Linked DNA regions of Homo sapiens. The protein of the gene in region 2 purifies or fractionates together with the protein of the main gene of each other region. This does not show direct contact. Each region holds a gene or a part of one and is shown on either strand. Other genes may lie near its edges. The genes, in order: XPOT, MS4A4A and CHP1.

The links.
Region 1: the proteins of MS4A4A (region 2) and XPOT purify together in Homo sapiens (affinity purification with mass spectrometry; one large-scale study listed by BioGRID and IntAct). This does not show direct contact.
Region 3: the proteins of MS4A4A (region 2) and CHP1 purify together in Homo sapiens (affinity purification with mass spectrometry; one large-scale study listed by BioGRID and IntAct). This does not show direct contact.

Annotation. Positions count from the first base shown.
Region 1 is NC_000012.12:64,414,262-64,417,917, reverse strand, and holds part of XPOT (exportin-T), read right to left. Parts: intron 3,012-3,656; coding exon 2,929-3,011; intron 1,221-2,928; coding exon 1,164-1,220; intron 1-1,163. UniProt on the Homo sapiens protein: Mediates the nuclear export of aminoacylated tRNAs. In the nucleus binds to tRNA and to the GTPase Ran in its active GTP-bound form. Docking of this trimeric complex to the nuclear pore complex (NPC) is mediated through binding to nucleoporins.
Region 2 is NC_000011.10:60,279,160-60,282,915, reverse strand, and holds the start of MS4A4A (membrane-spanning 4-domains subfamily A member 4A), read right to left. Parts: upstream 2,251-3,756; 5' UTR 2,241-2,250; coding exon 2,200-2,240; intron 323-2,199; exon of another isoform or gene 177-322; intron 1-176.
Region 3 is NC_000015.10:41,279,191-41,282,406, reverse strand, and holds the end of CHP1 (calcineurin B homologous protein 1), read right to left. Parts: intron 3,072-3,216; coding exon 3,018-3,071; 3' UTR 520-3,017; downstream 1-519. UniProt on the Homo sapiens protein: Calcium-binding protein involved in different processes such as regulation of vesicular trafficking, plasma membrane Na(+)/H(+) exchanger and gene transcription. Involved in the constitutive exocytic membrane traffic.

The DNA.
Region 1 (3,656 bases), on a different chromosome or scaffold from region 2:
AACTGATAATGCCACTCATCATTGCTTTAAAGATAAGGACAAGAGTGGCAGGTAGGGCATCAATATCAATCTTTAATTTGTGATTCTGTTCATGTTGAAACAAATGATGGCTACACAATTTTTCGAATGAAAATGTTTTGTGGTCTGTGATCTACAGAATAAACCAATAGGTGAACTAGGAATCCTCTCAGTAGTGATTTGTTATTTTGCTTAATTAGTAAGTCAGAGATTCTGAACACAAGTGCCCATGCAGCTACTTAACTCTAAGAGAGAATTGTCATGTAGAAAAACAGGCCTGGTGTTACCAGATATTCTGACTTTTCCAGAAAAGCTGGAAATCTAGATTTTTCTGTGAAATATCTGGATTTTCATTTTTTTTTTTTTTTTTGAGACAAGGTCTTGCTGTATTGCCCAGGCTGAAGTGCAGTGGCACCATCATGGCTCACTGGAGCCTCAACCTCCTGGCCTCAGCTTCCCCAGTAGCTGGGAATACAGAAGCGCGCAATCATGCCTGGCTAATTTTTTAAAAAAATTTTTGTAGAGATGAGGTCTCACTATGTTGCCTAGGCTGGTCTCAAACTCCTGAGCTCAAACGATCCTCTTGCCTTGGACTCCCAAAGTGCTGAGATCATAGGCATGAGCCACTGCGCCCAGCCTTGGATTTTTATGTGTAACCAACAAACTCAGCACTTTTTTTATTTTTGAGACGGAGTCTCGCTGTCACCCAGTCTGGAGTGCAGTGGTGTGATCCCGGCTCACTGCAACCTCCGCCTCCCAGGTTCAAGCAATTCTCGTGCCTCAGTCTCCTGAGTAGCTGGGATTACAGGTGCATGCCACCACATCTGACTAGTTTCTGTATTTTTTGTAGAGACGGGGTTTCACCATGTTGGCCAGGCTGGTTAGTCTCAAACTCCTGACTTCAAGTGATCTACCGGCCTCAGCCTCCCAAAGTGCTCGGATTACAGGCGAGAGCCACCTCACCTGGCCAACTCAGCACTTTTAAAACACTTTGGGGTACATCAAAACGTATCTATAACCTGGATATAACATATACACTGTGAATTTACAACCTGTATTATGGTTTCCTTATGGAAGAAAAACATTAAATTAAAAAAATGACCTCTCCCCGCAAATCTGAGTCAAAACAGTAAGAAAAGCCTTACTTGTATTTAACTTGATGTTCCAGTACTTGAAAGCAGAAAAACTTCACATGATCATCACTGAAAAAGAAAAAAAGAAAATGAGATAAGCAGAATATGAACTGAGGAAAACAAATCAAAGGCAAAATAGTAATGAGTAATACAGCAGAAAAGTTTCTCAAACTAGACCTTTGGCTTGTTTCATACTTACTGGTCTCATTTTATGACATTAAAATCCATTTACTTAAAAAGCTATGAGAACTCTAAATATTACACAATATTTAAAATTTCCATTAAATCTGACAAGCAAACTAACCAAGATATTAAGATGCACCTTGAATACAATGCTTTGTAAGCAGCAAACCATCCCTCTAAATTCCAGATATTAAGATTCCTGGAACAGTCCCTTCATTTTACAATAACAGGTTAGGTGTAAAATTACAAATGGCAGAACAGACAGAGTCTGAGTGAAAGTAAAGATGGTCGTCCAAGTCCTGCTTAAAATTCAACCCCAGTAGTTCTATTGTAGCCAAATCCAAAACAAGCAGGGCCACATGGACTGTCAGTCCAACTTCAAAGTTTCGTACAGGACACTAAATTACAAATATGGTACCCTTGCTTATACAAGATGGGGGCAAAAGTCAACACACCAATTACCCACTTCCAACTGTCTTTCTAGGGGAGTGGCAGAGTTGCAGTTAGCCAGCTATAAACACTGACAAAGATCTTCTAGAGACCAACAATCTGCCAATGAAGTGAGTATAAGAGAGTTCCTATTTCCGTAAAAAGTTAGTTGAATGCTTTAGAAAGATTTCATAGAAAGCCACACTGCAGAAGGAAAAAATCTTGTACATATTTGACATGGCCTATATAACCAGAAGACTTGAGAGGCGGGGACAAATATCTTAAAAATCTATGGATCGTCACTCATTGTACAGAGACCCATGCTAGAAATTGTAGAGGATGGGTTACAGGTGTGACCAACCTACGAATAAAGTGAATGCTAGTTAGTATACAAAGATAAAGACTGTGGTCCAATATTAAAAGATTGGTCACCGAATGATTATATACCTTAAGTTAAAATTAAAAATTAAGATATAGGCCGGGTACGGTGGCTCACGCCTGTAATCCCAGCACTTTGGAAGGCCGAGACGGGCGGATCACAAGGTCAGGAGATCGAGACCATCCTGGCCAACACAGTGAAACCCTGTCTCCACCAAAAAGAAATACAAAAAAATTAGCCGGGCATGGTGATGGGCACCTGTAGTCCCAGCTACTCAGGAGGCTGAGGCAGGAGAATGGCAAGAACCCAGGAGGCGAAGCTTGCAGTGAGCCTAGATTGCGCCACTGCACTTCAGCCTGGGCGACAAAGCGAGACTCCATCTCAAGAAAATAATAATAATAATAATAAAATAAATAAATAATTTTAAAATTAAGATATATATCATTTACAATCACCGTCTTTACCAAAGTTTTAGGAAAGCAGTTATCACCCTCAATCATAAGATAAGGAAGTTTTTACTGCACTTTATTCCAGCTGGGATCTGGTGACAGGTACACAATATATACCAAAGGATGGTTTTACTGAAAAGTTAATTCTGAAATGGCCAAACTGGGTTTACTACTTTTCTCATTTCTACATGGAATGACTATATGTTAATGGCTTTGCAAAAAAAAAAAAAAGTCATAAAATGTTTTTATGAAAACACTTTCCAAATACAGGTAAATTTCACAGTCCTGTCATGTCCACAGAAATTTAAATTGTCATGCAAATTTTGTTTTTAATTACCTGTATGTCCTCTGGGCTAGAGCTTCTGCACACACCTGCCAGGCATCTGGGGAAATTTTTAACTGCTCAAAATAGGCCAGGGCCTATAAGATTGCAAAACAAAAAAATGCATTTAGAATAAACAATCTCAATGCCCTGCTAATATAAACAAAATATTCTGAGAGTTGCAAACCTATAACAAATCAGTAAACTTAATAGAAAAACAGTTAAAACATTAAATGCAGGCTTCCGAATATATGCAACTTGGGGTCATTCCTAAAAATAGGTTAAATAAATATAAATTCCATCAGTTAGATAATCAAACCTGTTTTCTTACAGCAGCAACAACACAAAAATGCCCCGCAGCCTTCATGGGGTTATTATGAAGAATGAGAGCAAGTGCTTTGTCAAGTGCCATACTACTGAGAAATTGCAGAGGATGAGTTAAGGGTGTGATCATTTTATAATATGCAATTATAAAATGGCACGTGAAGGGCACTTTTCCTATTTAATAGCACATCTGCTATTAAAGCGGTGATTATAAAAGATAAAACATACTGTGTACCTTATCTGATCTACTGTTACACAGGAGAGTATTTCAAGTCTTTAATTATATCATGTAAGTTCCCTAAAGAGATTAAAATTGGAGTACAAGTGCATGATATGAATTTTGAAAAATATTAAGTAACTGAAAAGGTCAAAGCTCGAGGAAGTTTTTTATCTCTAAGTTTATGAATTCAGGGCCTTGT
Region 2 (3,756 bases):
GGATATTCAATCCACCACTGATGTTGTAGCCAGAATGATCAAATACAAAAACAATTGAGTCACCATCCCCTTTAAAAGCCTTCTTTTATATTTCACCACCCTTAGCATAAAGTTAAAATTTTTAATGTTGATAACAAAAGCTCGGCTACTTCAGCACAAATCTATTGTAGTCTTACCTCGAATCTCTCTCCTTTTAATTTTTAAAGCTCCAAGTATATTTGACTTATTTAAGTTGTTCCAAAGACGTAATTTCATTCCTATATTGAGACATCTGCATATATTGAAACCATTTGCAGGAATGTTCCACCCCTCTTGTGACCACCTTGTAAGAACAAAAACAAACCCACCACATCATCTAATCTTCTCACACATGAACAGCATTTTATAGTCTCTATCTTCTCTCAGACACTATTCCCCCACTTCCCCACCATTGCCCACATGTGGATTAGTCAGCCTATGACGGTAAATAAGGGTTTAAGAAATGTGTTATGTTCCTTCTACATTGCAAAAGTCAAAGTTATTTGGAAAGTGACTAAAGATGATTCTTCTTAGTCCATCTAAATGTGTACTTTATTCTTCTTTAATGTAAAAGAACCTCTGCCTCAATCTCTCAGGCACACCTTCAGACTGAGAATTTAGGACATGTTGGGTCTGTCTTATCAAACGCACTGGTGGTTCTCTCTCTGTGTTTAGTGCCTCTCTGGTAAGACTGTAAGCTTCCTCGAGGGCAGAGCAATTATATCAAAATAAAGCTTGTAACTGACTCCTATGCTTTCCCATAATTCTTTGGTAACATAGGTCAGGTTCTGGTCATTCAAGGCTGGTGCTTTGTCATTCTAAGAAACTCTGGCCATAAATTCATATAACTGCCTCCTCTTTTTCCACCACAGAAATCCTTGTGTTAATTATCTACGGCACATGAAGTCCCCAAGAACAAAAACGTGTTTACCATCCAGGGCTTGACTTCTCTATATTCAATTTTTTTTTTAACTGCTGAGAATATTGGATGCATATGAGGGACATTTCTTCCAGGTTGGAGAAGAATTTAAACCTTGGTTTTGCCACATCACCTATATGCATCAGGCTCTTAAGAAATACAATGTCTTTCCCCCACACCCCTGATAAAGAGGTGGGGAAACCCAGACCACCCTTCCCTCTTCTATTGGCCCCAGTCACCTTGTGGATCAGCAGCACCACCAGTCTCTTATTTCCTCATTTTTATGTCACCATCCTCCTCATGGGTCACAATTGCAAGGAGAGAGCATGAGGAGAGTGGTACAAACAGCCATCCGTTTTTCTTGGCAAAGTTGTCAAATAGACTAGAAACCCAAAATGAGGCCTGAATCTGGATGGTTTTAGAAGGATGATGGGGATGCAGAAGTGGTGGCATGGGAAGGGAAAAGGGGGAAAGGCCCGGGCTAGGAACCAAGAATTCTGTTTTTGTTTTTGTTTTTGTTTTTCTCCCAGCCCTTTTGTTAACTTGTGTGATTCTGGGTACATTATTTCCCTTTTATTGGCTTCTTTTACTTCATCTGGGGAAAGATTACAATGGCCACGACCACTTACAAGCTTCTTTCTTATCCTAAGAATGCTAAAAGTCTACAAGGTGTTTTTCATTAGCAGATTTTATCATGAGCAGCCTCAGTTTACTGCCTGGGTGCCCCATGAATAGTGCCAAAGACCACTGGAGAACTAGGTCAGGCCACAGCCCATCTAAATGTACAAGGCTGGGGACCCTGCCTGTGCCCTACTCCATGTACACCAAATTCTGCATGTGATACATCTGTTCTTAAATCCTGAGTTATAAAAATAACCAGTCAGACACAGAGAATAAAGACCACAGAAGAAGGGCATTAACAGTAGATGAGGTAACTAGTCAAAGGTTTAAAATGTTGCTTTCAGTGTTTTGATATCCTGAAGACTCAGGGGACAAAAGTAACTAAACAACCTTATCCAGCCTCCAATGTCAGCCTTTAGGAGGCTTTTCTAACTCCTATCGACTGTAGCAAAAACTGTTCCTCATCCCCCCACCGAATGCACATTTAAAGGTGCACTCAACCCACCCCAACCCTGAATACCAGCTTGGGTCATGGGAAGTGGCCTCATTATTCTTCTCATTCCCCTCCCAGAAATTCTTAACCCAGGAAGTGAAACAAGCCATCAGCCCGAAAGCCTAGGAAGGCAAGTCCCTGGACCTACCTTTCTTCAGGCCTGCAATGTCTGCTGTAGGTCTGATGCATGCAGGGCTCTGGGCAAGTTCCTCAAAGTTCTTTGGTCTAGACCCAATCAACTTCCCCCACTCCACACCTCACTCAGTTTAAATCTGCATTCCTCTTCTAGCAGATGTTTGGAACCTTAAAGGCTGTGCTGAGAATTTCTGAGACGCACAGCTAGTTCCTCTTTTATATCGGAAGCATTAACTGATTTTGTGTTCCCAATATGGGTGTGGATGTCTATTTTGAAATTTGCTGAAAAAGCAGGGGCTGCCTGATACAGTCTTTCCTATGAAAATAATACTGCTAATTACTGTGGATATCAGTGGTAGAGGATTTACTGTATGCCAGACTCTCTTCAAAAGTCGTTATATAAACAAGTAAATGGTATTTTGTAAATACCCCCTTTCACAGGGTCACACATTTCCACAGTACTCTTGTCTTCCTGGAGCACTACTATTACTATTTTATTAGGTTGGTGCAAAAGTAATTGCAGTTTTTGCCATTATTTTATGGCCAAAATCACAATTAACTTTTGCACCAACCTTAATATACACAACTTAAATGTTTTATTTACATGAAATTCCACCTTTAGAGATTCATCAGGAGTGGCCATAAAATGGCAACAAGTTGGTTGTATGGCAATAAAACAACACCTTTCTAAGTGAAGGAAGCAGCTGGTATCATAGAACGAGCTGGTCTTTGACTAAGATCAAACCAATGGCAAACATTTCTTGCATGGCCCTGTTAATCTCCTGAACCTAAGATTCATTTGTAAAATAAAATAATGCCTACTTTACATGGAGGAGGAAAGCAAAGTGGTGTGCAGTTTTCATTCATTCAGCATTTTCTTTAGAAAAACTACTATAAGCCAAGCAGTGTGCCGTGTGCTTCTGAAAAAATGGTAAAAAATAATTTTCACTCAAAGAGTTTATAGACTACTTGGAAAAACAGACCAGTAAATAAATCACTACAATCCATTACTATCAGTTATCTGCAAGGTAAAGTGGCAATACAGATGAGTAAATACATCATTACAACCCATTGTAATCAGTGATCTGCAAGGTAAAGTAGGATATCCTAAGAGAGCTCATAGGAGGATCAATGAACCCAACATTGGGTAGGCAGAGGAGACTTCCTAGATAAGGGGACATCTAATTGGAGACCTGATGAATGAGCAAAAGACACACAAATGGAAAGGGAATGAAGGAAGGTAATATTATTATTTCTATTTTTCAGAAGAAGAAACTGAAACTCAGAGATATTCGTATAGCTGGTATAGATGAGATTGAAATCCAGTTTTACTTAATTCCAAAAACTATGTGGTCTATAATCTGAAATTACGATTCTCAAAATTAAAATAGATTATATTTCAGAAATATTGTCCTGGTTTCAGACAACAGGAATAAATAATAATAAAATCAGAGAATTAGGCTCAAGGTAGAGGCAGTTCTCTAGGGAAGGGATGATGGTTACTGAACTACCTGTGATGCTAGTGAAGTTGGAGAGAATGAATGGATTTGAAAGATGCTTAGGAACAAGA
Region 3 (3,216 bases), on a different chromosome or scaffold from region 2:
AGGTGTGGTGGCACGTGCCTGTAATCCCAGCTACTCAGGAGGCTGAGGCAGGAGAATTGCTTGAACCTGGGAGGCGGAGGTTGCAGTGAGCCAAGACTGTGCCATTACACTCCAGCCTGGGCAAGAGTGAGACTCCATCTCAAAAAAGAAATGCAAAGAAAAAGCCATGTAAAACCAGAGTATGTCACCGCTGAGGCTGCACATGAATGAGGAGGTGGGCAATTTAAGGAATGGACATATACTGGATTTTTAGGCTTTTTCTACATTTAAGGAGTCAGGGAGTCAAGAATAGAAATTGCGTCTTAGCTGGAATGAATGGGAAGTGGCCACGGCTGACAAAACCATGTCGAAGCCAAAAGTGCTGGCCCCTCGATGAATGTTTCCACTTCATATATCCAGGCAGCAGCAGAGTAGACTGCAGCTGACCGTACAGACATAAACTTGAGTAAGGGAGACACTGTGATTTCAAACTTGAAGGGACTAAGTTACATAAAATTCTTGTAAAATGGACAAAAGTTATTTTGTTTCAACCACAAGTATTTATTGATGGATCGAAGATACAATTTTAATGGAACAATAAGGCACAACCGTGGATTAAAACACTTTGCTATACAGCCAAAAGGGGGGAAAATCTATAACCTTAGGAACTTTATGCCAATCAAGAAGCCTCTAAAGTACCTCTCTAATAGATCAGTATCAGACATTCTTCCCTTTTACATAATTCCTATATTACATCACTTAATCATAAAATCTGACTGATACTTCATAAAGAATTCCTCATTCATTTATATTTGAGCCATCCAGCCTGGCTACTCCCCTGTTCTCCACCCTTTTCCATCACTTTGCAGTGGTATTTTTTAGCAATCTTCAATAGTTTTCCAAAGCAAGGAAACAAGCAAGCAAGCAATGAGTCAGAAAGTCAACCAAGGGCAGATGTGTGGCTAAATACACTCATAGAGACATACATTAGGATAGCAATAGCCTGATTCACTGAAGTCTAAACTAAGCTGACTTGGCAGAAAAGTTGCTGTGGCTCGCTCAAAGATCTGTAATGCCACCTTAGGTTGTGCTACTAGTGCCAGACCTCTTGTTTTTAAGGGATTAGCAGTGGTCTAAACAAGAAGCCAGGGAGCTAATGTAACCAGGCAGCTAATGACACAACAGTCAATGCTTTGGACATGTATTAGGAGCAGACTATGGCTTCCGTCATTAACATTTGCCAAGTGTAAAATTCATAAAGAATTTTGCGGCTGAGCACGGTGGCTCATGCCTGTAATCCCAGCACTTTGGGAGGCCGAGGCAGGAGGATCACCTGAGGTCAGGAGTTCAAGACCAACCTGGCCAACATGGTGAAACTCCCTCTCCACTAAAAATGCAAAAATTACCCAGGTATGGTGGCACACGTCTGTAATCCCAGCTACTTGGGAGGCTGAGGTGGGAGAATTGCTTGAACCCAGGAGGCAGAGGTTGCAGTGAGCCAAGATCACGCCACTGCACTCCAGCCTGGGTGACAGAGTGAGACTCCATCTCAAAAAAAAGAATTTTGTGCAAAACTTCAAGACACTAAGGAAACAATCTTTAAATATTTTGGACTGGGGCCAGGCGTGGTGGCTCACACCTGTAATCCCAGCACTTTGGGAGGCTGAGGCAGGCGGATCACGAGGTCAGGAGTTCGAGACCAGCCTGGCCAACATGGTGAAACCCTGTCTCCACTAAAAATACAAAAAATTAGCCGGGCATGGTGGTGCACACCTGTAATCCCAGCTACTTGGGAGGCTGAGGCAGGAGAATCACTTAAATCCAGGAGGCTGAGGTTGCAGTGAGCGATCGCACCACTGCACTCCAGCCTGGGTGACAGAGCAAGACTCTGTCTCAAAAAAAAAAAAAAAAAAAAAAAAAAATTTGGACTGGGATATTAGGCACTTCCGTAACACTAATATTTCTACTTGGAAATGTGAAGTGGAAAACATTCCAGTGCACATAACACTGAGGCATAAACCATGCTGCAAAGGTGTGAATGCATGAGGCTTTATAGGGTGCCCAGCCTCCTTATTAAATAAAAGCCATGAGAAAGTCCCTAGGCATATTGTCAGAGCAGCCATTCTGGTGGTAACGGTGTCCCCAAACTAAGCAAACCTGTAAGCATACTGCTGCTTTTTCAACAGTCAACATTGCACTAACAAGAGGAGCCACACAGGTACAAAGTTGAGAATCAGAGGCCAGAGATAGAGTGATGTGGGCAAGCAACCTAGAAGACTTGGCTCCATACCTCTCACCAAGGCCACCTTTCAAAAAGGGTATCTCCACCCAGCAGCCTTTGATGACAGAGCAGAGTGCAGAGGATGGTCTCATACTTCTGAGAGAAGTATTGATTACCAAAAAGCTCCTGAAGAGGCAACATCCCAGAGGCCCATTTAATAATGAAGGTAAATAAAAACTGCCAGACCCCTGAACTATCCTGCCAAGTCAGAAATACATATATAGGACATAGCTTGTGGTGCCAAGTAGAACAGAGGAGATTTTGAGGCTTAATGAAAAGCAGAAAGACTGCCAGAGTAAGTGAACAGTATGTTGGAAGACAGGGAAGTAGGAAGCAAAGAACATATAAAAAGGATGAAGAAGCATGCTGGCAGACTCGCTGGAGGGAAGGCAGCAGGGCTACAGTCTACATCTGGTGAAAGAGCTTTGCTGGCTTGTTCTTGGCATGATTGCCTCTCTCACTTTCTCAGACTGGATGGATGTGTGGCATTCAGCAGCAGAATGGGGAAGATGATATTTATAAATGAAGAACTAGTGAATGGATACTGAACAGAAATATATAGGGTGTACCATTCTGTAATGCCCTGTTTATACACCAAAGGCAGGTTTGTGTTGACAGAACATATTTGGGGTTGTCATGCAACAGCAGTAGTACTTTGGGAGAAGGGGAATGAGGGGGTGGAGGTGGAGTTGGTAGAAGGAGGACTTTCAAGTTCCAGTTCTTAAATACTAGACCGCAAGGAACAGTTTGGTCTCCTTTAGTGAAGAAATCGGATGCTCATTTTCTGTTCTACATCCACCTTCTCCAAAACCTGGGGGAGAAAACCAGTAACAGTTACAAAGGTTATGAAGATTACAACACTCCCAAGCTCTTATCTGAGTAATGTTTTCCCCCCTTCCTCCTGTGCAGTAAAACGTAACTTTTTTTTTTTTTTTTGGAGGCAGAGTCTCACTCTG